Homo sapiens: one gene and its partners. The protein of the gene in region 3 interacts with the protein of the main gene of each other region in a biochemical or structural test. Each region holds a gene or a part of one and is shown on either strand. Other genes may lie near its edges.

Region 1 (7,036 bases), on a different chromosome or scaffold from region 3:
AGGTCAACGCTCACCCTCTGTTACGGATTGAATTGTGTGCCTCCAAAATTCCTATCTCGAAGTCCTAACCCCCAGTCTCACTGAATGTGATTGTATTTGTAGACAAGGCCTTTAAAGAGGTATTTAAGGTTAAATGAGGCAACACAGGTGATGCAATCTGATCCAATCTGACTGCTGCCCTTATAAGAAGAGGGGATGAGGAAACAGACACACAAGAGGGATGGCCCTGTGAGGACACAGGGAGGGGACACCACCGGCAAGCCCCAGAGAGAGGCCTCAAAAGGAACCAGCCCTGGCAACACCATCATCTCTGACCTCCAGCCTCCAGGACTGTGGGAGAGTAAACTTCTGCTGTGGAAGCTAAACAGTCAACCCACACGCAGCGTCCCTGTCGCCATTTGCACCTCCTGGCAGCTGGTGCAAATCAGCCCAAAGCTAAGTGGCCTTGGCAGGTCTTTGCAGCCTTGGTGGCTAGGTGAGGAGGCCTTTTCTTGAGAAATCAAGAATGTGTCTCTGAAGCTGGGTCCATGAGAAATGGCGATCAGCGTTCACCATGTGAGAAAGGCCCAGACTTGGGAGAGCCGAGACTCCCCAGGGCTGTGGCCTGGGGATTATTTAAAAAGCTTTAAATGTTTTTAATAAGGACTTTCAGCTATTTAAAAAGATTGAGCTAGTACCATGGATTCCAACAACCCTATCATCTGGAGTAAAACAGAGACCATTCTGTTTTACTCAGCCTAGTGACTTAAATGTTAATCTCATTTTTAAAAAATACCTTCACAGTGACATCTAAAATAACATTTGACCCAATACCTGGGTACTGTGGAGAAGTACCCAGGTATTGGGTAGGGGGAGAGCCTGGAATGGAAGTCTCTGCTCGTAGCTCAGCCTGTGTCTAAACCGTGCTTTCAATGGCTGAAAACAGAACATGCATCTGCCTGTGAACTGGCCCCCCTCACACGGTCTTCTCTATAGGGATTTCACCCCTTCCCTACAGTAAGAAAAGACAACTGGCCACAGGTCTGGTAGAATCATGGCCCCAGAGATGATGCCCTAATCCCGGGAACTTGTGCATGTGACCTTATTAGGAAAGAGAGTTTCTGCAGATGGGATTGAGTGGAGGGTCTTGAAATGAGGAAATGATCCTGGGTCATCCAGGAGGGCCCTAAACCCCATCACAAGTGTGCTGATGAGAGAAAAGCAGAGGGGATCTGATACAGCAGCAGAGGAGGCCATGCAGCCAGAGAGGCAGAGACTGGAGCAATGTGGCCACAAGCCAAGGAACACCTGGGGCCACCAGGAGCTGGAAGAAGCAAAGAATAAATTCTCCCCTAGAATGTCAGAGGGAGCATGGCCCTGCCAACACCTTGACTTTGGACTTCCAGCCTCCAGAGCTGTGAGAGAATAAATGTCTCTTGCTTGGCACCGCCCAGCCTGTTATGGCAGCCCCAGGACACCAATGCAGCACCTTCTGTCTAGAGAATTGGTGCAGCCCTGCCTCATTCCATAGATCCCAGGGGTCAGTCCATTCCACTCCCCACAGGGCTTTCTTTTGCTTTATCATCATATTCCTGTGGCAAAGCTCCACAGAAGAACATTTAAAATGCTCTGAGCTCTTCCAGGAAGAAAATACCCCAAATCCAAAACTTCAGCCCGCAAGTTGAAAACTTCAGGGACTTTGTTACTAGGCAGAATGAGTTTCCAAGAGCATGCATGCTTTGCAATCTACTTGCAGATCAGCTCTCTACAGCTCTCTAGGATGTTTTAATATTCATTCTGGGATAGGGGCGGTGGGTGCTGCCTCTTGGTGTCAGTGTAGGCAACCTCTGCATAACCACACTTCACATGCAAGAGAGCAAGACAGCAAGACAAACCTTCCCCTGAAGCTGTTCCCCAGGAGATGCATGTTTCTATCCTGAAACAAACAACTGAAGTTTTCCAATAAGGGAAAGCAATACTATTCACTTGGCCTTACCGTATATCCGTTTTGAAGACTCAGCCCAGTGACCCTAAGAAAGTGTTTGCATGGTGACTGCAAACGTTCTCACTGGCTCACCAATCCCATAGTTTATGCACCTACCAAATGTAGCCAGGGCCACCGAGAACTGTCTGGTCCTGATAAATTTCAGCAGCTGGAAATTCTGCATCGTCCGGGCCAGCGTGGACTTCACAAGGGATCCACAGGATCTGGCAGGAGCTGCCCGTGGTGCTGACCCCGAGAATGCTTTCAAGGCAGGTGAAATTGGCCCCCACCCTACTTTCTGGTGTCCCTTCCTTCCCAGTAGTTTCCAATCACTTCCCTAGGTACAGGGACACCACGGGGGACCACTCTTGCCAGAGCGAGTGGCCAGTTAGTGCAGACCCTTGAGACTGGATCACTGTTCACAGAAGAAAGTCCAGACAGGAATGATCAGCTGCACTGGCCAGGTGGAAAATGAGTCCCTTCCTCCCTGAGGGTGTTTGGATGTTAAAGCCATTTGCATTTTCCTCTCTAGGATTTGGAGGGAATCAGGGCGATGCTGGGGCTGGTGTATGAGGGTTTATGCAGACAAGGCTTACCTCTCCTCACCTCTCTTCCTTACCCTGCTCAGTAGGAAAACACACACAAGAGCTGCCCTCTCATTTTAGCCCAGAGAGAGCTGTGTGGCCAAGAGGGAGCAGGGCAGGGATAGTGCCTGTCTGAGCTGCCTCCTGCCCAGGGGTCCTCCCTACCCCGTCCATCCCTGGTCGCCTGGGCTCCAGGCAGGATTTGGTCCCCAGAAGGCCCCACAGCCCACCTCCCGTGGCAGGCCGTGTTCGCTCTGCCCCCACCATCTCTGTTAATGACTCATCTTTCCATGTTCATCCCTTGGCCCAGGGAGACCTGCAGCTCCCTAAAGCAGGGATGCTGTGGACTGCAGCTTCATGGACCAGCATGTGACATGCTCCCCCCTGCGGTGCCATGTCACAGGGAGGTTGAGGCATGAGTCCTGGGTGCCAGAGGGCAGCACCACTGGGCCTGTGTTGCTGCAGGGTTCCCCACCTCTTGCTCTGAAATGGACCCCCCTGGATAGCCTGGGCCTGGCTCTGGGGCTGGGAATGTAGGTGAAGGGCCGATGTCAGCTGGCACATTAGTGCCCTCCAGGGAAGCAGCCGAGCCTGGTGTCTCCCTCCAGGGTCCTGGTGCAGGGCTTATGCTCCACGCAGCTGTCCTGGTGGCCTCTAGCTGGCTCGGCCCCTAGCACTCTGCTCTCTGGTCCCAGGGGGGGCATCCTCAGCTCTCATTCACTCTCTTCATCTCATTTGCTGTGGGTTCCTCTCAAGGCCAGTCCCTCAACTTGATCAGCCCTGCACAGCATGGGGAGAAGGGTGGCCTAGCCCCTGAGGACAGAGCCCCCCACAACACCATCCCACACAGTGGAGGCCCCTCCCAAAGGGTAGCCAGCCTCGCTGCCCCAAGCATGACCTTTGGGCTACTTCCCCAAAGCACAGGCTCCCCAGAAAGAGGGCGGGCGTGAGCCCTGTAACTGCAAGGCTCCAAGGCCATCCTGCGGCTGCCTGAGGCTGGGGAGGAAGGTGCCAGAGAGCTGCTGTCCCTGGCTCGAAGCTGCTGGCCACCGCCAAGGCCAGTCTCATGCCGAGAAGAAGTAAATAAACTATAAAGTACTGTTTTCCTTTAGCATTCAGCCAAACAGAGAATGACCAGCTATGGGAAAACAGCAAGGGGATGGATGAGGGCTTCTCCCCTTGGTGCTCAGAAGCAGAATTCATACCTGGGAGCCATAAAAGGACGGCCCCTCAACAGGTCAACACCAGGGCAGTCCTGGAGGGTTTCTCAGAAGAAGTGTGCCAGCAAGAGAGGAGACTAGATATATAGATAGGTAATCTATACTATAACAATACATATTATAATATAGATAGGGATAATGTCCTAAGACGTCTCTATGGGAATGATAAGGACTTAGAAAAGACAGAAAAGTAGAAAAACGGATGTGTCATGATAGGGGCCAATCCTGTCTCTTTTCATTTTCTTGATGTTAGAATGCCCAGAAAATAAAACATTGGAAGAAATTGAAGAGATTGTCAATTTCATGTCCTCTTTCATTCTAATGATTTGGGCAAAATGGGCTGAGCTATTGACTAACGAAGGAAAAGATTCCCTCGCAGTTGCTGGGTGACTGGGAGAGCTGCCATTGGTGCAAGTCCAGTGAGTTGGATGTTAAACTGCATGTGCCTTGCTTCCTGCCCCACCCCCCAGGCTACCGTTGCAAGGAAGAGCGTGCTGGTGGTTCGCCACGGGGAGAGAGTGGATCAGATCTTCGGGAAGGCATGGCTGCAGCAATGCTCCACTCCTGATGGTAGGTCACACTCAGGCGGGTCTACGGACAGAAACACTGTAGATCTAACCAATGAGATCTCCTTCTTAATGACCTTACATGGCACCAGATCCCCTGAGGCACCATTCTGTAGAATGACCATGTGTAGACTGTATGTGTGGAAAACGTGCCTGCTACATCTTCCTCCAGGGGTGTTCCATGTATGCATTTGAGTGTCTGTGTTGGAACCTCTCCAACCTAATCTTAACTGATGTAATTTTTGGCTATGCTGCTTAACAGATGGACGTATTCTTGAACATGCCTCTTGCACACCCCAGCTTTTCTCCTCTGAATGCCAGGAAGTAAGAATAGTGCTTATAAATACACATACCCACAAGCCAACCTCTGTATTGATGATCAATGTCCACATCAATGCTAATCTCCTAATAGGAAGCCTGTAGTGTCACAATTTCTAAGCCATGACCCATTACATAAATTAAGGCATTGAATGTAGTGACAAAATCAATTCACAGTTGCTAGGTTAGCCGAACCCTTTTGGGATCCCCCTCCAGAAGCCCAGCAGACCCAAGAAAGTGGTAAATGAGTAGGGAAAACCATTGGCAGATGACAATCACACACCAGAAAAGATTCTGAGCAGATAACATCATGATCAAGCATATTTCCAAGAACTCACAGAGCTAATAATATGGTCACCTCTATAAAACAAGATCAAGTAAAGATACAAGAGCTTAAAGCAACAATAAGACAATAGGTGGCTATCAGGATGCATTAACAAACATATAAGAAACTTTTTTTCAATAAAACAGTTTTTTTAGCTATTGAATTACTGAAGCTATAGATTGAACTGACACACCTTGTCCATGGTGGGGAGAACCAATACAAAACAATCAACACCAAAAATAGTTATTGAACTTCATAGAAAAAGAAAAAATATTTGGTCATCTGGACAAAAGATCAAGTCACTTATAAGGGAAAATATTTTAAAGGCACTGGAAATCCCCATCTGAAAGGAAACTCCTGGTGGATCTTTTCCCAAGGTAGAGAGGCCCTTGATAAAGTGAAGAATTACATCTAGTTTGTCTGAATTTTGTATATTGCAGGGTTTAATAAATCACAAGGAGGTATAGCCACGTCCTCCCCCAAGGTGACCAACCTCAGGGAACACAAGGGAGATTTGGGGGGCTCTACTGGCCTCTCCCCAGCTCAGCTCACTTTTGGCCCAGGCACCCACATCCTCACAGGGCCCCTCACCTCACCCCATATTCCACACAGACTCTGCTCCCATCAGGACCTGACCTTGCCCCACATCCTTGTCCTCTCCTGAGCTCTGCCCTCTGCCCCCAGAGTGATCACAGCTGAAGTGTCAATGACAGCAAAATACCTAAATGGAGTGTCTTGACATTTTAGAGGGGGATCACAGATGCCTTTGAGAACACAATGAAATTGATGGACTTTCTCTCTGATTTTAAAACTGCCTTTCCCAAGAGCTAATGTTGGCATTGAATAAACACCTCTAAAATGCAGTGTTCAAACAAGAGTCTCTGCCCATGGAAATCCCAGGGAGGGAGTCTTCAGAAAACTCCTATATGGAAACTAAAATGCAGGCATGAAAAATTGCCCCCCGCTGACCCCTGCTGCCCCCCACTGCCCCCTGACTCTGGGTTTGTGCAAGGCTGTGGGCCAGGATGAAGGGGCCTGGCATATTCTGGGGTGCAAAGGGCAGGGCCTGCTATGTATGGCAGAGCAGGTCTCAGGAAGGTCAGTGTGGCTGCTGGAACCTCCTAATAACCAGGAGGCTTGGGGTCCCTTTGGAGAATGTGAAGGCAAACCAGAGTGCACTGGAGGGAGCAGTGTGTCGTGGTGTCCTGTGTGAGGATAATCAGTCATCCTGACGTGGTGACATGAGACCAGTGCCCCGACTCGTTGACCACTCCCTCTTGAGTCAGACTCTGGGCTATGGGTGTTACCTCACTGACACCTCGCAATCGCTACTCTTTCCCTGTTTTTTACTGATAAGAGAGATGAAGTCATTTATTTCTGGCTGCACAGTGAGGAGATGGTGATGCCAGGATTTGCTACCAGACTGTCAGATCTTAGAACTCAAGGTCAAACTCCACGTGAACCCTGGCACCGGGCAGCCTCTGGTGGGAGACAGTCCCAGTGAGCCCACTTCCAGCCTGGCTTCAAGCAATTGACTAAAGAATGCACAACACAGGCATCTCCAGCTCAAGCACTCTGTCCCCTGAGCAAGAAGGATACGTTTAAAGCTAGGGGGATGGATCATTGATGCCAACTTCAGATTCTTACCGAGTTACACTAAACTAGTCATAGAGACACTTTATCAGGTTCTTCATCAGGAAAATGTAAGAGTGAATCTTCATGGGGCATTTTGGGAGGACAAAGAGGGTTGCATAGTTCCTGGGGCTGAAACCTAAGTTGTCTGCATTTGAGAAAATGTTGTGTGCACAGCTGAGCAGCACTTTCTTCTCAAATTGAAGCCACGTTGCAGAGAATGTTCAGAAACAACACAGTTGACAATAATTTCAATAATAACATTGCTGTTAGAGTGGGTCTTGGTCTTGGGAGTTTTGTGGAACAAATCTGTACTAACTTGATGAAACTGAACGTCTGATGCTTATTTATACTTCAGGGAAATACTACAGGCCAGACCTGAATTTCCCCTGCAGTCTGCCAAGACGGAGTCGTGGGATCAAAGACTT
Region 2 (7,036 bases), about 60 Mb from region 3:
TTATCCTTTCAGCCTGTAATGAATATTTTAAAAGTATTAATGAGATATTTCACATTCTGGGTTTTTGGTGGTTTTTTTTTTTTTTTTTTTTACACTGAGTCTTTGAAATTGTGTGTATATTTTTCACTTTGGCACATCTCAATTCAGATGCTAAATTGTCAATTGTTAAAGTAAAATATAGTCTTACCAAATCAATAAAGTTGTGTTTAATGGAAAAAGTACTTTACCCTTCTTCTATTTATTTTATTTTATTTTTTGAGATGGAATCTTGCTCTGTTGCCCAGGCTGGAGTACAGTGGCGCGATTTTGGCGCACTACAACTTCCGCCTCCTAGGCCCAAGTCCCAAGTAGCTGGGATTACAGGTCCCCACCACCACGCCCAGCTAATTTTTGTATTCTTAGCAGACACGGGGTTTTACCATGTTGGCCAGGATGGTCTCGAACTCCTGACCTCAAGTGATCTGCCCACCTCAGCCTCCCAAAGTGCTGGGATTACAGGCGTGAACCACCGTGCCTGGCCTCTATTTTTAATTTAAATTTGAATTAGTAAAAATGAAATTAAAAATTCAGTTCTTTGTCACACTAGCCACAATTTCCAATGTTCAGTAGCCACATGTGGTTGGTGGCTACCATATTGGACAGTGCAAGTCTAGCTGGTGCTTAAAATAAGCTGAGATGATTCCTCCTCAAGTCATCTATTCTCCCACAGGTTCAAAAACCTATTTATTTATTTTAAGAAAGATCATGCAAAGCCATTCTAGCCTTTCTCCTGCCCTGGCTAGCAGGCTCCCTTGTTCAGTCTCAGAGCCAAATTCATCTTCTAAATCTCACTCTTCTCTTCTTCACTCAGTTCTTCTTGAGGTCAAAACACTTTTCTGCTTACTGGCAGAGCAGTGCTTCTTGGAGAAGCCCTTCGTGGTGGGGAGAGGGGAGGAGGATGGGGTAAGAGAGACTTGGAGGGGTTCTTACTCCTCCTGCTCTGCCCCACACCCAGCAGGCTCTGTATCTCCTCCTTGGCTCCTGGGAATCAGCCAAGTGCTGAGGCTGTGCTGTTTCTCTTTCTCTTCTAGGATATCAAAGTCGTCTTGTGCAGGTATGATGGGCCACCCCAAATGTATTTTGCCTACTGATTCATCCACACACAATTCTCAGCGTATATCCAAATGCAGTCAACATTCCTCTCTCAGAAATACCCACCCACCTCTAACTCTGCATTCATACATTTAGGCTGCAGCCGGGGAATGCCTATGCCAACCATATTAGCACGTGGTTGGTTGTTAAAGAAACCAGCTGTTTTCTCAGCCTTCCTCCTTCTTCAGCACAGATTCTACTATTTCCTGAATGCCCCCTTGCTCAACTGAATAGCTCCTGGGTCCCCTACTCTGTCTCCCTGACCCTGTTTTTTTCCCTCCTCTCTGTCTCCATCTCCCATCTTCATTTCCATATCTCCCTATGCCCTACCTCACTCCCGCCCCATATCCCTAGCCCTGACTTTCTGACTCCCAGCTCACTATCCCTTAACCGCCAGGTCTTCTTTTTTTTTTTTTTTTTTTTTTTTTGAGATGGAGCTTTGCTCTTGTTGCTCAGGCTGGAGTGCAGTGGTGCAATCTCAGCTCACTGCAACCTTTGTCTCCCAGGTTCAAGTGATTCTCCTGCCTCAGCCTCCCAAGTAGCTGAGACTACAGGCGCTTGCCACCAAGCCTGGCTAATTTTCATATTTTTAGTAGAGACCAGGTTTTACCATGTTGGCCAGGCTAGTCTTGAACTCCTGACCTCAGGTGATCCACCCGCCTCAGCCTCCCAAAGTGCTGGGATTACAGGTGTGAGCCACTGCTCTCAGTTCTACCCCCAGGTCTTCATCCCCTCATTTCTCAACCGCGTATCTCAGATCCTCCTTCTCCCACACCTCATCCCCTGATCTCACCAACCAGCTCAACCACATCTTCCTAGAAGTGAAGAGTTTCAGTTTCTCAACCCAACCCCTGTTCCTCTGGAACTGGAGAAAAAACTCAGTGAAGCAAAATCAAGACATGACTCCATCACAGGGAGCCTAAAAAAATTCAAAGGTAAGGAAGAGGCTGTATTTTCTCTATTCACCTACTTCCAGGAGATTCTCTCCCTGCTCACTCCACTGAAATGGAACTGTGACTCATACATGCCAACAATCCCTGGGCCCTTCTAGTGCCAGGCTTCTGGCTGAGTACTTTCCACGCATCAGTATGCCTCCTCCCAGGCATTTCTTATATTCTGTCTTTGTGATATGTTATTTATCTGCCTCCCTGACTCCTGCGAGAGCCATAGAGGGCCTGGACCTATTCCCCATGTGGACACCTGGCCTAGAGCAGTGGCTGTTGGGAAGTTGGTGATGAGTTGTCTGGTGGACCAGAGATGGCCTCAGGCAGGGACTGTCATCTCTGACTTCTCCTTCTCTGGTGCACACTGGTGTCTCCTCCTGCCTACAGAAGAAGAGAAAATAAATTCAAAATCAGTGACATTCTGGGGAGAAACCTCTTCCAGCCTTACAGGGAAACAGAAATCAGCAGAACAGTAGTGGATGACTTGGGTTTTAGATGTTCGCCAGATATTTTTCATAAACCTTTCTGTGTTTGCAACTAGGAAGAAGGGTTAGTATTTGTAAGGACTCCCCTTAATGTGAAGACTGTGTTGGTCTAAGGTGGGCATAAAGACAGCTAGATGGAATCTTCTGAAATTATCACCTGGAGTTCCACACCCACCTCCCCCACCCCAACCCCCAGCCCCCCATACACAAACACTTCCCCTTGGGACTACGGAAAAGGAGGACCAGGGCAATGCCCCAAGATCTCCACCCATTCAGCCGGGAATCTCCACTCGGCAGACATAAACAGGAAAGCATGTTTTGTTTTATTCTTAATTTTGTTGTCTGAGCTTTTCTTTTGTCCACTAACTGCTCTGCTTTGTCTAGCTCCTCCCACCCCACTGGGCATGATCTCAGCCGATCTAGCAACTTTATTTATTTGTTTATTTATTTATTTATTTTTGATGGAGTTTTGCTCTTATTGCCCAGGATAGAGTGCAGTGGCGCAATCTCGGCTCACTGCAACCTCCGCCTTCTGGTTTCAAGCGATTCTCCTGCCTCAGCTTCCCAAGTCGCTGGTGTTACAGGCGCACACCACCATGCCCAGCTAGTTTTTTGTATTTTTAGTAGAGACGGGGTTTCACCAGGTTGGTCAAGCTGGTCTCGAACTGCTGACTTGTGATCCACCCGCCTCAGCCTCCCAAAGTGCTGGGATTACAGGCGTGAGCCACCACGTCCAGCCCGATCCAGCACCTTTCTAGGCTCTTCAGGTCAAGAATAGTTTGGTTCTAGTTTGGAATTTCAATAAAGGAGCCCAGCCCTTTCCACTTCATCAGGTTTGGAGTTGGGGAGACTGGTGTGCTCTACTCTGTATCCCCCTTTTCTTTCCCTCTTTCACATACACAAACTCACACACACACAGTCCCCCAACTCCCACCTGGCCCTATTTCCTTCTTTTTTTTTTCTCTTATTTTTATTTTATTTTTACCCCAAAGAAGAAGGCACAATGGCCACCTGGCCCTATTAAAGCCTAGGAAATACAGGAGGTGGTAGGGAGTCTACTTATACCACAGGTCCAATCTCCACAGTTCTTATTATGAGGGTTGGTTCTCCCTGCTCGGGGTGACTGGGTCTGGAACACGTACGTGGAGAAGGGTGTGGCTGGGCCCTGAAGCCGCTAAAGGCCCTTGTAGGTGAAGTGCTCCCAGGCAGTGTTTCCTATGCTCTAGGTTTGCAGACCCCTCCTAAGAGGGCCCCCGCGTCTCCCCTGAGCAGTCCCCATGACTGGGCTGGTGGCTCTCAGGGAAGCTACCCACGCTTGTCCCACTACCTAGCCCCAGGCTGTCTTGTGCTGTCTTGGGGCTGCAAGACACTGGGGGAAGGGTGCTGGGGCCAGAAGTAGCTCCCCATCTAGGGGCTCCACCCTATAGTTCTCCACTCAGTCCAGCACCCCTACAGGAAATCTAGGCCAGGAATGGGCCATTGTCCCCAGCTTCTGGGCTCATCCTCTACCTGCAAAAGGAGTCTCTTCTGGCAGGGGTGAACTGGGAGATGAAGGCACTCGGCCTCCCCTTGCAGGAGCTCTGTCTTCGTTCCCCCTCTCAAGCCCTCTTTCATGGGAAAGAGGGCAGGACTGCCATCCAGGCTTTAGGAGAGTGGGGCCCCCCCTTACCCCACCTGGCTCCTGGGTGGTTAGCCCTACAGTAGGCCTTCTGAAGCTAAAGGGTGAAGCCTCAAGGCACTCTTTGTCCTGAGCACCTACCTTTGTCAGGCAGTGAGAAAGGGGCTAGCTCTGCACTGTCCAATTTAGTAGCTGCTAGCCACATGTGCTGACAGGCACTTGAAATGTAGCTAGTCCAAATTTAAACATGCTATATGTGAAGAATCATTAATTTCACAAGATTGAGTGTAAAAAGAGACTGTAAAAGATAGCAATAATTTTTATAATACATGTTGAAATAACATTTTGAGAATATTGAGTTAAATAAAATATATAATTAAAGTTAATTTTACTAGTTTCTTTCTACTTTTTAAATGTGACTACTAGAAAATTTAAAAATATATAAGTGGCTCACATTCGTGACTCAGATTACATTCATCATTCATACTGGACAGTGCTGGGCTAGGCAGTCACCACAGGAAATCAGAAAGGGCATCTCTCAAGGGTTGCATACCTTCCTGGTCCAATAAGAATATGAGAGTCAAATGCAGCTTCTACTTCTCCCAGGCATTTCAAATTAGTGCCTTGCTGTGTGATAGTGAGTTCTTTGCTCAACCCCTCTGGACTCTCACCATTTCATCCCATTCTTTATTCCCCAGACCAACTCCAGGCTGATAGGAAAAAAGATGAAAACAGATTCTTCAAAAGCATGAATAAAAATGACATGAAGAGCTGTAAGTGAGAAATGATGGTTGGTTGCTTCTGCCATTTGGGGAAAGTGAGAAAAGGGGAAGAATTGTGTCTCTATGATTACATGAAGGCCAGATATAAGTGAATGCCGATTCCTCAGCCAATTGAGAGAACAGGCATATGGTTGTTTTATTATTTTAAACTCAGGTAACTCACAAAACAGTCACTAATCCCAAACTTTGAAGTATTCAGAAGTAATAGAAAATTACAAATGTATTTCTTCACTCCTAGAGACAGGGAGGAAAAAGTGGGACAAGAAGGAGGCAGCTCCACCTCTGTAGTATTTGCTGCCCCTACAGGGCAGCAGGTTTCGAGGCAAACTCCTCTGGGTGTGAGGTCAGTACAGCTCAGGGGATGGAGACCCACTGTAATAACAGCCTGTGCTAAAGTCATTAGATATGGTTCTGCCACCTAAGACAATAACAGTAGAAGTACCATTTCTTAAAGGACCACTATGTGCGCATCTAATATTTCAAAACCCCACAACTATCCTCCAAGATAGGTGTTATTATCTGCAACTTACAGTGAGGTCCATGTAGCTTCCGGGAGGGGAGGTAAGTTACCCAGGTCATATGATCATTAAGTGAAAGAGAGAGAATTAGAACTCCTTTCTCCAAAGCCAGAAACTACAGAATGCATTCCAAAGCCAGAGAGCAGGATTTAGGGATCCTATTCCACCAGCATTTCTCCACAAAAGGAGCTACCGGTGTTTAGAAAGGCCATCTTTGTTATGCTCCATGACTTTTGCCCTGTTAAATGCTTAGTATCCCAGGCCCCAGAAAGCCCTATAAGCCAGTAGAGAACCACACTCTTGTTGTCACTGAGACAACCTGAAAGGTTTCCACACTTCCCCCTGGGTGGGGAATGGGTCCCACTGAGAACCATTGACTGTTCTGATTGATGATGGCAGGGTGCTTGTTTTTGTTTTTAATTTGCAGCTTCTGGTTATCAAGACCAAATAGGTTTTCTCTCCCCAATTTTTAGGGGGCTTGTTACAGAAAAATAATCATAAAATGAACAAAACCTCAGAGCCCGGGTCATCTTCTGCAGGTAAGAGTCCTGTCTCTGAATACTAAGGGACCTCTAAGTCTACAGGTGGTCAAAATGCTGTATCCACCCAATTCCACTAAATGGAATAAATGAATAAATGAATGAATTCATTTATTCCATTTCCTCAGTTCCTCCCCAAATTACACCTCTGCCAGGAAACAGAGGGCGCTCCGACTTGTTCAGGTGTACTTTCTTGAGTTTCACCTCCATCCCTCCTGCTGTATGTAGAGCTCAGCTGTGCTGTCTGGCAATGGAGGATTGCTGCCGAGGTGCTCCCGCTGACCTCTTTTCTCCTTTCCTTCTCCCGCAAAGGCGGCAGAACTACATCGGGGCCACCAAATCACCACTCTTCAGCCCCATCCCACTCCCTGTTTCGGGCCTCGTCTGCTGGGAAAGTCACTTTTCCAGTATGTCTCCTGGCCTCTTATGATGAGATTTCTGGTCAAGGAGCGAGCTCTCAGGATACGAAGACATTTGACGTTGCGCTGTCCGAGGAGCTCCATGCGGCACTGAGTGAGTGGCTGACAGCGATCCGGGCTTGGTTTTGTGAGGTTCCTTCAAGCTAAGCCAGCTCAGAGAACACGGGGAGCGGTGGTGCTACACGGACTTCGGAGCATAGAGTGGCGCTGAGTGAGTGGCTGAGACCGACCACGGTTCTTGACTTAGTGGAATTGGGTCGAAGGAGTGGAGAATGGGAGGGCTCGGGCTACTGAGAGTGGAGATGGGGGCGGGGGTGGTGGTGAAGAGAGTTGGAGAAGGAATGGACGAATTCTTGAGCAAAAGGAGGGGAAGAGACAATCTCCAGCCACCCGCCCCACGCTTGACTTCTTATCACTTTGGCTGTGGTGCCGCCTAGTGGAAAAAGGAAGTCCCTGCAGCAGTCCCCGCACTCTTTAAGCAGCTGTTTACCGAAGGCACCAGTTCAGCCAGGAGTGAAATCCGGAGAGGAGCAACGCCAGCCTGGGTCACAGTCCATCAAACCCCATGAGCCCGACCACTCTCGCTCTTCCTTACATTCC
Region 3 (7,036 bases):
CATCATCAGTTTTAGCTTTCTACTGGATCATTCCTAAAACATACGTAGTCTGTATTTGCATTCACTAGCTTCTCTTTTCCCCTTCTTTCTTGAGCTGACTCCATTCAGACGTATTATGCCAGTACTTCAGAATTGTTCTTGTCAAGGTCACTAGTTATCTCTACATCACTACATTTAAGGAATCATTTTCATTTCTCATCTTGACTCTCAGTAGCACTTGACCTAATTCATTACTTTCTCCTTCTTACAGACAGCACTTTCTTCAGTTGGCCTCCGAGATACCATACTAGCCTAGATTCCATCTTACATCTCTGGCCGTCTGTTCTCAGTTTTCTTTGCTGGTTATTCCTCATCTCCCCAACCTAGAAATGTTGGAGTGCCCAGGGCCTGCTCATTTGGCTTCTTCACTTATCTGTCTGCACTCATTTCCTTGGTAACCTCATTCATTATTATGGCCTTATATACCATCTGTTGGCTCATAATGTTTTCCATCTTATACCTGAACTCTATACTCATATATCCAACTATTTCCTTTACATCTACTAGAAACTCAAACTTAATATTTTCCAAACTGAGTTCCTGATACTTCCTTCAAACTCACTCTTCCTTTAGTCTTTCCGCATCTCAATTAATAGCCCTCAGTTCTTCTACTAGCTCAGGTTAAAAACCTTAAGTTATTCTTGACTATTAGAAGACTATTTAGGCATCTTGGTTCCTTTTTTGTGCTATCCTTAAGTTTCTCTTAAAATGGGTTTGTTTGGATATCTTCATTAGCTTGAAAAGTCTTATTTTATTTCTGTTCCTGCCTGGCTAGTTTATAAAAGAATGTAAGTTACATAATACCAAGTGAAGCATTTGTATTATTTCCAGCCATTAGTCATAAATGTTTCTGCTTTTCCTAGGCTCATTCATGGACATTGCTTCTACAAATACGAGTAACAAAAGTGACACTAATATGGAGCAAGTTCCTGCCACAAATGATACTATTAAGCGCTTAGAATCAAAATTGTTGAAAAATCAGGCAAAGCAACAGGTTTGTTATGTTATTACAAGTAAAACTGGTAACCTTACCAGTAGTCACAATATTATACTAACTGAAATTAATTATTTACCATCTTCTATTTTATAAATCCTGAATTTTCTTCCTGAAACATGCAAAAGAGCTTACAAATAGAGACACGTAATGAGATTCTCCTACCATTTATTACCAAATGGTTTTTCCTTCTAATGATTGCTACCTTTGCCAATTCTAAATCCCTATCTATAATAATCCCTAAATGTAATGGTTGATGGTTAAAAATGTAAAATGGGTATATTTTGGCTGCGCTGCCCAGTTAGAGGAGTTGTTCTAAGTCTATCATTTCATGCTGTTCAGATTTATTATATTTTTGCCATTGTTGATTTTTAAAAATATTTCAAGGAGTGAGTTTATTCATTTTGCCTGAGGCATTTAGGTTAACGAATAATTGGGGCTTTTAGCTCCCAGTTCTAGTGACTGCCTTTTCATAAAGACAGTATCTGCAGCTTGCTTTCCCTTACCCCTGTAGCTCCCTCTCGTACAAACTTCCCTCTCCTTTCAGAGCAGAACAGGATCTATCAGAATCCCATTTGCCATCTTCCTCCTTTTAGGTTGCCTAAGATTGCTAAATCTAAAGAACTTCAGTAATTCAGATTGACCTGTAATTTTAACAGAGTGAATCTGGACGTTTAAGCTTGGGAGCCTCCCGTGGGAGCAGTGTGGAGAGCTTGCCCCCAACCTCTGAGGGCAAGAGGATGAGTGCTGACATGTCTGAAATAGAAGCTAGGATCGCCGCAACCACAGGTAAAAAGGAACTACAAGTCTGAAGAGTGAAAATGTATATAAGCCTTTTTGGCCATGGTAGTTTCAGTTGTCAAAGGTTTTTTGTGTGTGTCTTATATTTTTTTTTAAATAGGAAGTAGGTTTACAATATATTTTTCTAAGTTACTAGCAATAGTTTATGCATTTATCTCAAATTCCAAATAAGGAAGGTATGACTTGTAAAATTATTTGGATGAGAAAGTATGCCTTCCTCATTTACAGATTTTATCAAATGTAATTCTTTCTGCTCAAACATGAGTTGAAAGTCTAAGTGAGAAATTGAAATTCTGCCAAAACCAGAATATTTTGGGGATTTTCAGTGATACTACTAGATTTTTGTGCTGAACTCAAATAATAGCAAATATTTTGTTTCAAATTTAACAGAAAAATGTATTCCAGATCCATGTATGATTTGACCTTCTATCTGCTTCTTCATTCCAGTGACAAAATAATAGCTAAGCTGGTTGTGGTTAATTTTTTTAATTGTAAAATAAAATATCATAATTTTATTAGATCTTGAAAAAGCTAGCATTTAAATTCCATTGTTCAGTTCTTAAAATTATTAATCATGGAAGAACTGGTCAGCACAAAAACAATTACATGTTTTGTTACTTAAGTAAACTGACAACCTAATTCTGTGACCAGGTTTCATTTTAGTAATGCTGGTTTAATTTGGACGTTTTTGGTTTTTTGCTGATTCTTTCCAGGGATCAGGGGGAGCTGATTTTAAAAGTAAACACGTTTCTGTTGTGGAAAATGTGGAAATGTAAACAAGCCAAAAAAACTTACATAATTACCCCACTCAGAGATAAACACTTAACATTTTTGTGTATTTACCCCATCTTTTAACTATGTATGTGTATAAATGTATATATTCATGTGTATTTGCATCTTTTTTAACTTAGCTAACCAATTTTTTAGGTCTTTTTTTCACTTATTTGGTTTTTTTCTAAATAGAATATTCTCATTGTGTGTGGAGCTCTTTTCAGAAAGAAGTTGTCAAGATGGACCATCATACTATACTTGTCTTCAACTAATCATGATCATTGATTTTATCAGCTACTATTAGAATCCATTAGATATAACAGAATATCCGAAATAACAGTGTCTATAACACATAAGCATTATTTTTCACATATAAACAAGTCTGGAGGTAGTGGGCTCTGTGATCTTGAAGTAACTGGTCTCCTATTTCTGTGCTGTAATCCCTACTGTATAGCTTCCATTCTCAAAGTTATCCTGTGCTCCAAAATGGCTGTTGAAGTTCCATTTCATCACTTCTACATTCCAGGCAATAGGAAGGAAGACATGGGGGCAGGGCAAATAGACATCCAAGTTCTTTGAAGGAACATTCCCAGATGCCTCTCTTAACAACATCCACACATCATTGGTCAAAGTAACATGGTCGAATGGCTACACGTAGCTCCAAGGGAAGAGGAGATCTGCCCTCTTTTATCTGATGACTTTTCTGTCCTAAATAAAATCAGAGTACTATTGCTAAAACAGAAGGGAAGAGTGGAAACTGGCAGAAGATAGCTGTGTCTGCCACAGATGGGTCTTCAGAAACTATCAAGTTGAGTAGAAGTCACCAGCCACTGACAAGCCCATGAGTCTCCATGAGTCACAAGTATTTCTTTGGAGCAGGGTTGTCTCACTGTAGTGTCAGATGAACCCTACTCACCGGGACATACCCTCATGCTTTGAGGAACCCTTTTCACTTCAGGGATGTTGTTCAGGATAGATCTGCCACATACTAATTGCTGTCTCAAAACTGAAAATTGTTATAATAATGGTTTCATGTCTTCGCTAGTATCATATTTCTAGTCAAGCACTGGTTTTTTATTATTATTTACAGAAATGACTTTGCTAGAAGGATAACCACACACATTAAAATTTTGCCTAAGTGTAGAACAAATGCTATTGTACATCCCTTGAGTTTTACACAATTTAAATTTTTTCATGAATTGTCTTACTTGGAAAGAGTCATACTTTCCAGCCTTTTGACAGACTTTGTGTTTACTGTGAATGTACCCTAAACTTTGGAAAATATAATAAATATTTGGTACTAGAAATATGTATAAGTATGACTACAAAAGCATATACATTTCACACTTTGATTCAATAATTATTATTTAATCATTGGATTTTACTTTATAGCACACTTCAAGAAACACCTAACTTGAACATGTATTCCTGTGTTTGTGTAATTAAAACAAATACGACAACTTACTTTTTAACGCCTTTCTTCCTCTCCTCCTTCGTTCCCCCACCCCCATCACAGATCAGTGATTTCACTTAGGTAGACTGTTTCTATGAATATATTTGAAATTTTGCTTCCTCATTACCCTGCAGCTTTGTCTCTGTTCTTTTTATTTTTTTCTGCTAATTAAAACCAGTGTGTAAAACATCTTGTATTTGGTAGTTGTTTGCTCTTTAATCTCGCCTTTTCTGAGCATGGATGAAAAGTTAGGTAGTTCTGCATGCCATTCTGCATGAAATGTTATTAACATGAACTATTTGAAAATGAGTCTATTTTTGTAGTTAATCATTTTCCGTGTTACTGTTTGTGGTTGTTTGCATGTATACTGTATATATGTGTTTTTGCAGCCTATTCCAAGCCTAAACGGGGCCACCGTAAAACTGCTTCATTTGGCAACATTCTGGATGTCCCTGAGATCGTCATATCAGGTATCATAGACCACCTGAGTTGGTCTAATAGCTGTGGAACCGGAATAATGATCCCTGGTACTTGTAAAATGCTTCTTGCTCCAATTTTTACAAGACATGAAAATGGATACCTTGCATGCAGTAATTAGGGAGACAGATTGAAAAACTACATTTATTCTGAAGCAGTCTTGAAAAGATACCTCTGATCTACAATAAGTGAGGATAAAATAGAAGAGAAAGTAAACCTTTTTGGAGAAGGGAGAACACCAACCCAGAATTCTACCAACTTCCTCTCTACTTTTAAGTGAGCACATGAGCTAAACCCAGACCTTTTTTGCACCCAACAGAAAGAGGAAACAACTAATTAAAATTTGTTATTTTCCTTGGCTCCTTTCCTTCCTCAGTTACTGCTTTTTGGGTCCCCTCTAGACTTTCTGTCCTAACCTCTTTCTGTTGGTAGCAAGTGAATGTGAAGTTGAGAGAAGAGAGTTGCTAAATAGCATTTTGCCTTAACCTGGAAAACAAAAAGTAAAGCTAAATGAGATGTGCTGTTTTGCAGGGTATCTTGCCAAAGAATCATGTAAAATAGTTGGTCAATTCTGATTTTTGTGTATTATCAGGAGAATCTCATAAATTACATGTTTTTATACCTAACTTACACATGGTACTTTAGTGTCTAAAATTGGTAAACTGCTTTATTTCTTATGGTGATCATTTCATAGAGGAATATGTTACCATTTTTAATAGAAACTTAAATGGCATATTGACCTTCAGTATTGATTAATGTATTATCAAAATTATCATTTATTTATCCCTTTAGGCTTTTCTCTACCTCTTTACCCAAAATCTTGATAAGGAAATACATATTTTCCACACACGTTCATGAGTGCGAGTTGGATGAATTCTTCAGCATGCTGTCCTTTGCCTGTGATTGTGTTTTTAGCAGTGTTGATAATTCTAGTTGAATACCTAATGGTTATTTTCTCCTCTACTAAACTGAAAACTATGTAAGGATAGAATCCATATCTTTGTGCATTATTTTGTTGTTGTTGCTTATTATTGATTGTATCAGCAGTTGCTGGCTCAGTGCTTCACATATTAAGCATATTAACATAGTGTTTAATAAATACATTTATTAAATAAATGAACAGACCTATTGAGCATCTCCCCTGGTGAGAAACTAGCATACAAAAATATGAATTATACTATTCTTAGGTGCCATTTTGTCTGTATAAAACTATCTTATATTAATTTTCCCCTGGTTATCAAAGTGGTTTCTTATTTTACAACATCATTACTATTGCTATTCAAAGAGTAGAGTTAACCCATTTTTCACATGGTAATTTTTATTTATTGAATCTGGACTGCTTCAGAAATTAACAAAGAGATCATTTTACATGGAGATCAGTTTACCTCCATGCGGAAAGGTACTGTGTATAAGGGACGTACTTTAAAGAGGTGGAAGCATTTAAACTTACATACCGCTGAACTGTGCTTCCCTTAAATGTTTGAGGGAATCAGGAAAATTTAGACAGATGGCAGTGTAATCTTATGACTAAGCATTAAGAATAAATTTATATATGGCAGCGTAGCCCACGCTATACAAGATAATGGGGGAGGGAAAAATAAGGAAAGAATAATAGTTTATAACTGTCAGGTACTACTGGCATCTAGTGGGCAGAGACCAGGGATGCTGCTAAACATCCTGATGTGTACCAGGCAGTCTTCTCCAACAAAGAATGATCCAGCCCAAAATGGCAGCAGTGCTGAGGCTGAAAACCCCTGATTAGATGTTCTTTGTGCCCTACAAAGTAGCTTAAAGTACATCTTATTTTACCTTTATACAATCTTACAACTAGGTTATCGGATGAAATTATAGCTGTTTAACAGACGAAGAACTTAGATCTGATGATGTTTAGTGGTTTTTCCAGAATCATATAGCCAGGACCCCAACCCAGATCTTCTGACTCCAAGTCACATCCATTTTTTGTTCTTTTGTTTAAGTCAGAGAAGCTAGAGTAATTTCTTCTTGCTTTCTCTTAGTGTTCACATTAAGGAGAGCTCTTCAGCCAGGGAGATCCTCTTTTATGACATTGGGCCTTTATGGAATCAGGTAACCTTAATTCTCTTAATTGCCAGAGCAGCAGTGCTATTCATATGAAAATATTATTCAGTAATACCTTTTATTAAATATTCTTTTTAGGCTTTTCCCCCCTCAGATATCAAACATTAACTTACTCAGGTGCACTTTCTTTAATAGAAGAATACAAGCTGTAGAATTGACACTAGTGGACATAAAAGCCAATCATGAATGTGCTCATAGGTAATGTTTTTAAATTAAATATAAAAATACCGCCCATCCTTTGGGAATATCTCAAATTTCCTACATGACATTTTAATTGTAAAGAAGGGTGATACTTAATTTCCAAAATTTCTTAATACTTTCTAGAAATTGTTTTGTTCTAAGTGGATTTCCCACAAGCTTTATGGTATTAGCAAATACTTCTTGATATATTCAAACTGTTTAAT
Region 4 (7,000 bases), on a different chromosome or scaffold from region 3:
GATCTCTTGACCTCGTGATTACTGCCTGCCTCGGCCTCCCAAAGTGCTGTGATTACAGGTGTGAGCTACGGTGCCCAGCCTTCTTTTTTAAATTATTTTTTAAAATTGGTCTTTAAATTCTACCAGAATTATTTCCTGATTATTTTTCTGTGTTCCCTCCTATCTTAATTTCTCTCCCTAAAGGCTGTTTAGCACCTAACATAACTCATGCATTAAATAAATATATTAATTTATCTCGGGATTCATGCGTATTTTTGCATTACTTTGTAAAATGTGTTTTTCTAGTATTTCATGTGTGTTTTGTTTGCATATTAAAATTGCAGTTTCCTTTATGGTAAAGGCTTGTTTTCCCAACAGTTCAAGCCTAATATGTATTACTCAGCAGACAGTCAATAAATTAGAATTGGCTGGCTAACAAGTTTTCTTTTTTTTTTTTTTTTGAGACAGTCTCGCTCTGTCGCCCAGGTTGGAGTGCAGTGGTGCAATTTCGGCTCACTGCAAGCTCCGCCTCCTGGGTTCACGCCATTCTCCTGCCTCAGCCTCCCGAGTAGCTGGGACTACAGGTGCCCGCCACCACGTCCGGATAATTTTTTTTTTGTATTTTTAATAGAGACGGGGTTTCACCGTGTTAGCCAGGATGGTCTCCATCTCCTGACCTCATGATCCGCCCGCCTCAGCCTCCCAAAGTGCTGGGATTACAGGCGTGAGCCACCACGCTGGGCCGAGTTTTCTTTTTAAGATGAATTGTGAAACATTTAGCAGCTCTTGAAATATACTTTTGCACCACCCCACCTGAATTCTTTAATATGTATTAGTTCTTAAAGAATATACCATATAATAGTAAATAGTATTTTAGCCTAATGACCAGCATCAGCATTCTACCTACATTTCCAGAATTTAGGTTCTTAATCATTCTGCTTCTTTTCATTTATCCTTCTTACCCACTGAGTTCTTTTTATGGAGTTTACTGTAACCCTTTAATGTCTTCCAGACTAACGCTAGAATGGGTAATATAAATATATGTAAATTCTGTAAAAAGGCACATTCAGCACCTTTTATGCCCTGCCTTGTAAGTTTTTAGCTCATATTTTTACTCTAGCTGTTGCCGAAGTCATCATCTTTTCAGGTCTAACTGGAGGGAACCTGTGAACTTTTTTGCACTTTCTTCCCTAAGATTTCTCTTCAGCCATTTAGGATATGTCTGGCTAAACATAGAGCTGAAAGTCCAGGTGTAATTAACATCCTGCAAGGCAACCTTTAATTCAGGTGTACAGCTCTGATGTACATTGCACGTGATTCCTCAAAGGGTCCCTAGAAGAATCAGTCAACCCCATTGCCAAATGCAGAAATAAAGGCAAGAATGGAGAAGATCAAATGATTATGGAGAGGAAAGCATTAAATAAAGCCTCATACAGCTTTAAGTGTGAAACACATAATTTGCCATTTTGGCGTGTGAATTATGATTGGGTTTGAGCTGTTTACTTTTCTGAAATAATGGCATGAAAGAAAATTAAAGACCAAGAATAGTTCCATTTGCCAGTAGAAAACCAGACTTTTATTCTCTATCTGAAATTGTGAAAGGAAGATCTGTATGCAAGAAAGAATTAGGAACTGTCAAAACATTTTTTCCCAAGCTATCTGAAAGTACTTGATTTTTGCATAGTGTCAAAGTATTGAGCTTCTATGGTATAAAGCATTGAACCAGATGTGGGGGAACACAATAGTGTGTAAGATACAGTCCTTATTTCCACCAGTTGGAGGAGCTAAAGTACCTATACCTGTACAAATACAAAATAATTGGAAAGCTGTTGGATGCTCTTAGATGTTCAAGTTAGGTTAGGCAATACTAACAGTATATACATGGCATTTGAGCCAGACTTTGAAAGATATGAAGGATTGACTAAAACCAATAAGAGACCAGAGTATTTGGTTTTCTGTTCCTGTGTTACTTTGCTAAGGATAATGGCCTCCAGCTGCATCCATAAGCCTGCAAGGGACATGATCTCATTTTTTTATAGCTGCATAGTATTCCATGGTGAATGTGTACTACATTTTCTTAATCTAGTTTATCACTGATGGGCATTTAGGTTGATTCCATGTCTTTGCTATTGTGAATTGTGCTGCAATGAGCATATGCGAGCATGTGTCTTTATAATAAAATGATTTCTATTCCTTTGGGTATATACCCAGTAATGGGATTGCTGAGTCAAATGGTATTTCTGTCTTTAGGTCTTTGAGGAATCACCACACTGTCTTCCACAATGGCTGAACTAATTTACACTCCCACCAGCAGTGTAAAAGTCTTCCTTTTCCTCCACAACCTTGCTAGCATCTGTTATTATTTGACTTTTTTTTTTTTTTTTTTGAGACGGAGTGTCGCTCTGTCGCCCAGGCTGGAGTGCAGTGGTGCAATGGCGGCTCACTGCAAGCTCCGCCTCCCAGGTTCACCCATTCTCCTGCCTCGGCCTCCCAAGTAGCTGGGACTACAGGTGCCCGTCACCACGCCTGGCTAATTTTTTGTATTTTTAGTAGAGACGGGGTTTCACCATGTTAGCCAGGATGGTCTTGATCTCCTGACCTTGTGATCCGCCCGCCTCAGCCTCCTAAAGTGCTGGGATTACAGGCGTGAGCCACTGCGGCCGGCCTCTCGTTGTGTTTTAATTTGCATTTCTCTAATGATCAGTGATGTTGAGCTTTTTTTCATGATTGTTGGCTGCATGTATGTGTTCTTTTGAAAAGTATCTGTTCGTGTCCTTTGCCCACTTTTTTATGGGGTTGTCTTTTTCTTGTAAATTTGTTTAAATTCCTTATAGACGTTGAATATTAGACCTTTGTCAGGTGCAGAATTTTCAAAAATGTTCTCCAGTTCTGTAGGTTGTCTGTTTACTCTGATGATGGTTTCTTTTGCTGTGCAGAAGCTCTTTAGATTAATTAGATCCTATTTGTCAATTTTTGCTTTTTTTGCAATTGCTTTTGGTGTCTTCAGCATGAAATCTTTGGCCATGCCTATGTCCTGAATGGTGTTGCCTAGGTTATCTTCCAGGGTTTTTATAGTTTTGAGTTTTACATTAAAGTCTTTAATCCATCTCGAGTTAATTTTTGTATATTGTGTAAGGAAGGGGTCCAGTTTCAATCTTCTGCATATGGCTAGCCAGGAATCCCATGGTGTGCTTTCAATAATATAGAGTACATCAATATTTGTAAAATGTGAATTATGGAACTATTTCCTGTACCTCATAGGCATTTCAAGGAAAAAAATTAATGACAGATATTACACTGAGTAACAAGGTAGTGTGAGTTTAAAAACAGTTATTGTGCAGTGTGTCTCTTCATTTTCCAGTGTCAGGGAAAAAATGTTATTAAATTTTACAATTATATATGTTGCACAAATGTGCTGAGTCCATTTACATTTTATGGAATAATTTCATTTGTTCTGCACTAGCTGGCTGGCAGAGAAATTGAACAATGTTTGGTGATGTTAAAGTTGTAATTTTGTCAGCAACAGAGTTAGGAAATATAAATATAAATCTGGAACTAAAACGTGTTGTGTTACCTTTGGCTACTCTAGGGGATAAAATATAACTTTTCACCACCACTTCCCAGTGGACTTTTCCTGGGAAGTCAGTTGTCATTGTTCTGGCAAGTTTCTTTTCATCCTAAATTTTGTTATCATTTAAAGAGAAAATCATGAAGGTTATAAAGAAATCCATTTTAGGGTATCTACCCAAAGGAAAATAAGTTATTATATAAAAAAGACACGTGCATGTGCATGTGTATAGCAGCACAATTCACAATTGCAAAAATGTGGAACCAACCTAAATGCCCACCAACCAACAAGTGGATAAAGAAAATGTGTTGTATATACACCATGGTATGCTACTCAGCCATAAAACAGAATGAAATAATGGCATTTGCAGCAATTTAGATGGCGTTGGAGACCGTTGTTCTATGTGAAGTAACTCAGAAATGGAAAACCAAATATCATAAATTCTCACTTATAAGCGAGAGCTAAGCTATGAGGATGCAAAGGCATAAGAATGATATAATGGACTTTGGGGACATAAGGGGGAGGGTGGGAAGGGGATGAGGGATAAAAGACTAAATATTGGGTACAGTGTACACTGCTCCAGTGATGGGTGCACCAAAATCTCAGAAATCACCACTAAAGAACTTACTTATATAACCAAAAACCACCTGTTCCCCAAAAACTACTGAAATAAAATTTTTAAAAACCAAATACACTTTAAAGACAATTTTAAAAAATTACAATAGTAAGAACATGGAAACAATACAAAAATGTGGAATGTAGAAAGTATTGTCTGTGCGTGGTTGCTCACGCCTGTAATCTCAGCTTTTTCGGAGGCTGAGGCGGGTGCATCACCTGAGGTCAGGAGTTCAAGACCAGCCTGGCCAACATGGTAAAACCCCGTCTCTACTAATAATACAAAAAAAATTAGCCGGGCATGGTGGCAGGCACTTGTAGTCCTAGCTACTCAGGAGGCTGAGGCAGGAGAATCGTTTGAACCCAGGAGGTGGAGGTTGCAGTGAGCCGAGATCATGCCATTGCACTCCAGCCTGGGCAACAAGAGTGAAACTCAGTCTCAAAAAAATAAAAATAAAAAAATAAAGTGTCTTCCACAGTTGGAGTATATTCTTTCATACCTTCTCCTATGCCTATATGATAATGCTAAATACACTATATATATATGTGTTGCTTAATTATGCTCATATATATGTATATATATGTTGTAGGATATACTGTACCTGATATTCTGTGACTTTGATTTTTAACCTCAACAATATATTATGGTATTCTTCCTGGTCAGTACATATAGTCCTATCTCATTTTTTCCAAAGGCTATAGAGGATACTACTCTATAAATGAAAAAAACTGAACCTCTGTTGATTAGCGTGTATCATATATATATATATATCAGTATGTATGTTTAATGCATACTTATTTTAAGTTGTACAATTAATAGCTGTACAGAATTTTAAAAACTGATACATTGTAACTTTACATATTTATGAGGTACAGTTTGATGTTTCAATACATGTATATCTTATATAGTGTTCAAATCAAGGTAGTTAGCATATCCCTTACCTCATTCATTTATAATTTAGTTATGTTGGGAACATTCAAAAACCTTTATTCTAGCTATTTTGTAATATACGACACCTTACTGATAACCATAGTCACCCTACTGTGCAACAGAACACTATGGGTTTTTCTTTTTTCTATGTAGATGTGTCTTTGCCTTATTCTAAGCAAAGATTGCCCCAGATACCATCTTTTTGTTTGTTTGTTTGTTCGTTTTTTAGCAGTTTTGTGTGTGTGTGTGTGTGTGTGTGTGTGTGTGTGTGTGTGTGTGAAGTTTTATACTGGTTATGAATATAATTTTGAACAATATATGGTGGACTTCATTGATTGATTTATTAACCTTAGACACTATGTGAGTAAAGCAGGACTGCACTGCAAGGAGATGCTAAACTTTTGACATTCCTGAGAGAGAAGTTTTATAAATTTCAGAATTCCCCTGATTTATGCATGCCTCTCTGTCACTTAATTATGCTCATAAAATTCTGCTTAACTAGCAATGGGATTCTCAACTTGGAGAGAAAAGAGTATGCTACCACTGCAGCCTACCAGAAGAACATATCAGAATCTTTGGGAAAATCTTTTCAAAATATGCATATCTTCCTTCCTACCCCCATGTGGAACGTGCTTACCTGATTGAAAATCACTGCATGTAATTAGTTGTTACTAATTGGAATGTAACTATTTGGGAGTGTGTTGTACAGATAGTGTAAAAACAAAAAACAAACAGCAACAACAACAACAACAAACTTGTCAAAGTAAGAATTATATATATGTAAGCTTTAAGGCATTTAAGTGGTGAAGAGGTTTGGTTTTGTTTGTTTGTTTGTTTGTTTGTTTGTTTTGCCCCAGGTTAAGGGGCATTGTCTTAAATCTCCTCATTTTCTGTTTATCCCATTATTTCATTATCAGCCCTAGCAGAGGACTCTCCTTTATAAAATTCACTTTACAAGAGTTCTTATGTAAACATTAATGAGTAGAGACTAATAAAACAAAGTAGGGATGTGGATGCCGTAGCATGGATGGGGTCATTGCTGAGATGAGTGACTGTCTTCTGCATTGTAGACAAGGGCAAGTCAAATTTGTATCCAGCAAAATCACTGTCAGGGGCCTTCAGTTCACTATAATAGTTGAAACTCTGAGCACTAAATCTGCGAATATCTAACCAAGTCTATCATCTTTTATACCTTTAAACCTAGTAGAAAACTCTTAGAGGTCTGTGATTCTATTTGAAGATCACCTTACTGGGTCCAGTGGATACTAAAAATGACGATGACAAGGACATGCTTGTCTGGAGGGTTGGTTTCACAGTGCTTTGAGCTTTCTCTATAGCACCTGAGGGTAAGTAAAAAGTCTAAGGGGAGAATTTCTAATGGAGTTCTCTCTCTCTGACTGTTTTATCTGCAGACTGCAGCTGAATATGTAAAATCTCGACTCCCAGAGGCCCTTAAACAGCATCTTCAGGACTACGAGAAAGACAAAGAAAATAGTGTATTATCTTACCAGACCATCCTTGAACAGCAGATTTTGTCAATTGACCGAGAAATGCTAGAAAAATTGACTGTATCCTATGATGAAGCAGGTATGTTTGTTTTTAAAACACACATTTTTTTTCCTTGCAAAAAAAATTCATTATAAACCTTGATTAAACTTGGTAAAAGGTTAAGGGCAAACTAGATTCAAAGTTATGTAACATGGACTAATAGTAAGTTTCTTCTCTGCAGTTTTAGTCTCAAGATGGTCAGAAGATTCCTAAAAATGGATCTTAAATATCAAATGCCTTTAAAATTTTGCTGTTTTTTATTGGGATTTTTTTGGCCTTTTATTAACTGGGTACTCCTAAAGTGTTATTTCAACTTTGGATAGCAACTGAAAACTTTTACATCCGAGAATCCAAGAAAT

What was found.
Region 1: the proteins of MAP3K7 (region 3) and UBASH3A form a complex in vitro, tested with the Homo sapiens proteins (one study listed by BioGRID).
Region 2: the proteins of MAP3K7 (region 3) and TRIM31 form a complex in vitro, tested with the Homo sapiens proteins (2 studies listed by BioGRID, with this or other methods).
Region 4: of the proteins of MAP3K7 (region 3) and PPM1L, one has a biochemical effect on the other in vitro, tested with the Homo sapiens proteins (one study listed by BioGRID).

What each region holds. Positions count from the first base shown.
Region 1 is NC_000021.9:42,427,866-42,434,901, forward strand, and holds part of UBASH3A (ubiquitin-associated and SH3 domain-containing protein A), read left to right. Parts: intron 1-4,237; coding exon 4,238-4,337; intron 4,338-6,966; coding exon 6,967-7,036. UniProt on the Homo sapiens protein: Interferes with CBL-mediated down-regulation and degradation of receptor-type tyrosine kinases. Promotes accumulation of activated target receptors, such as T-cell receptors, EGFR and PDGFRB, on the cell surface.
Region 2 is NC_000006.12:30,103,083-30,110,118, reverse strand, and holds part of TRIM31 (E3 ubiquitin-protein ligase TRIM31), read left to right. Parts: intron 1-1,070; coding exon 1,071-1,093; intron 1,094-1,931; coding exon of another isoform or gene 1,932-1,950; coding exon 1,951-2,066; intron 2,067-2,331; exon of another isoform or gene 2,332-2,456; intron 2,457-4,731; exon of another isoform or gene 4,732-4,876; coding exon 4,877-4,951; intron 4,952-5,951; coding exon 5,952-6,017; intron 6,018-6,329; coding exon 6,330-6,583; 3' UTR 6,584-6,873; coding exon of another isoform or gene 6,874-6,914; 3' UTR 6,915-7,036.
Region 3 is NC_000006.12:90,542,044-90,549,079, reverse strand, and holds part of MAP3K7 (mitogen-activated protein kinase kinase kinase 7), read left to right. Parts: intron 1-902; coding exon 903-1,033; intron 1,034-1,692; coding exon 1,693-1,822; intron 1,823-4,447; coding exon 4,448-4,528; intron 4,529-7,036. UniProt on the Homo sapiens protein: Serine/threonine kinase which acts as an essential component of the MAP kinase signal transduction pathway. Plays an important role in the cascades of cellular responses evoked by changes in the environment.
Region 4 is NC_000003.12:160,955,231-160,962,230, forward strand, and holds part of PPM1L (protein phosphatase 1L), read left to right. Parts: intron 1-6,505; coding exon 6,506-6,680; intron 6,681-7,000. UniProt on the Homo sapiens protein: Acts as a suppressor of the SAPK signaling pathways by associating with and dephosphorylating MAP3K7/TAK1 and MAP3K5, and by attenuating the association between MAP3K7/TAK1 and MAP2K4 or MAP2K6.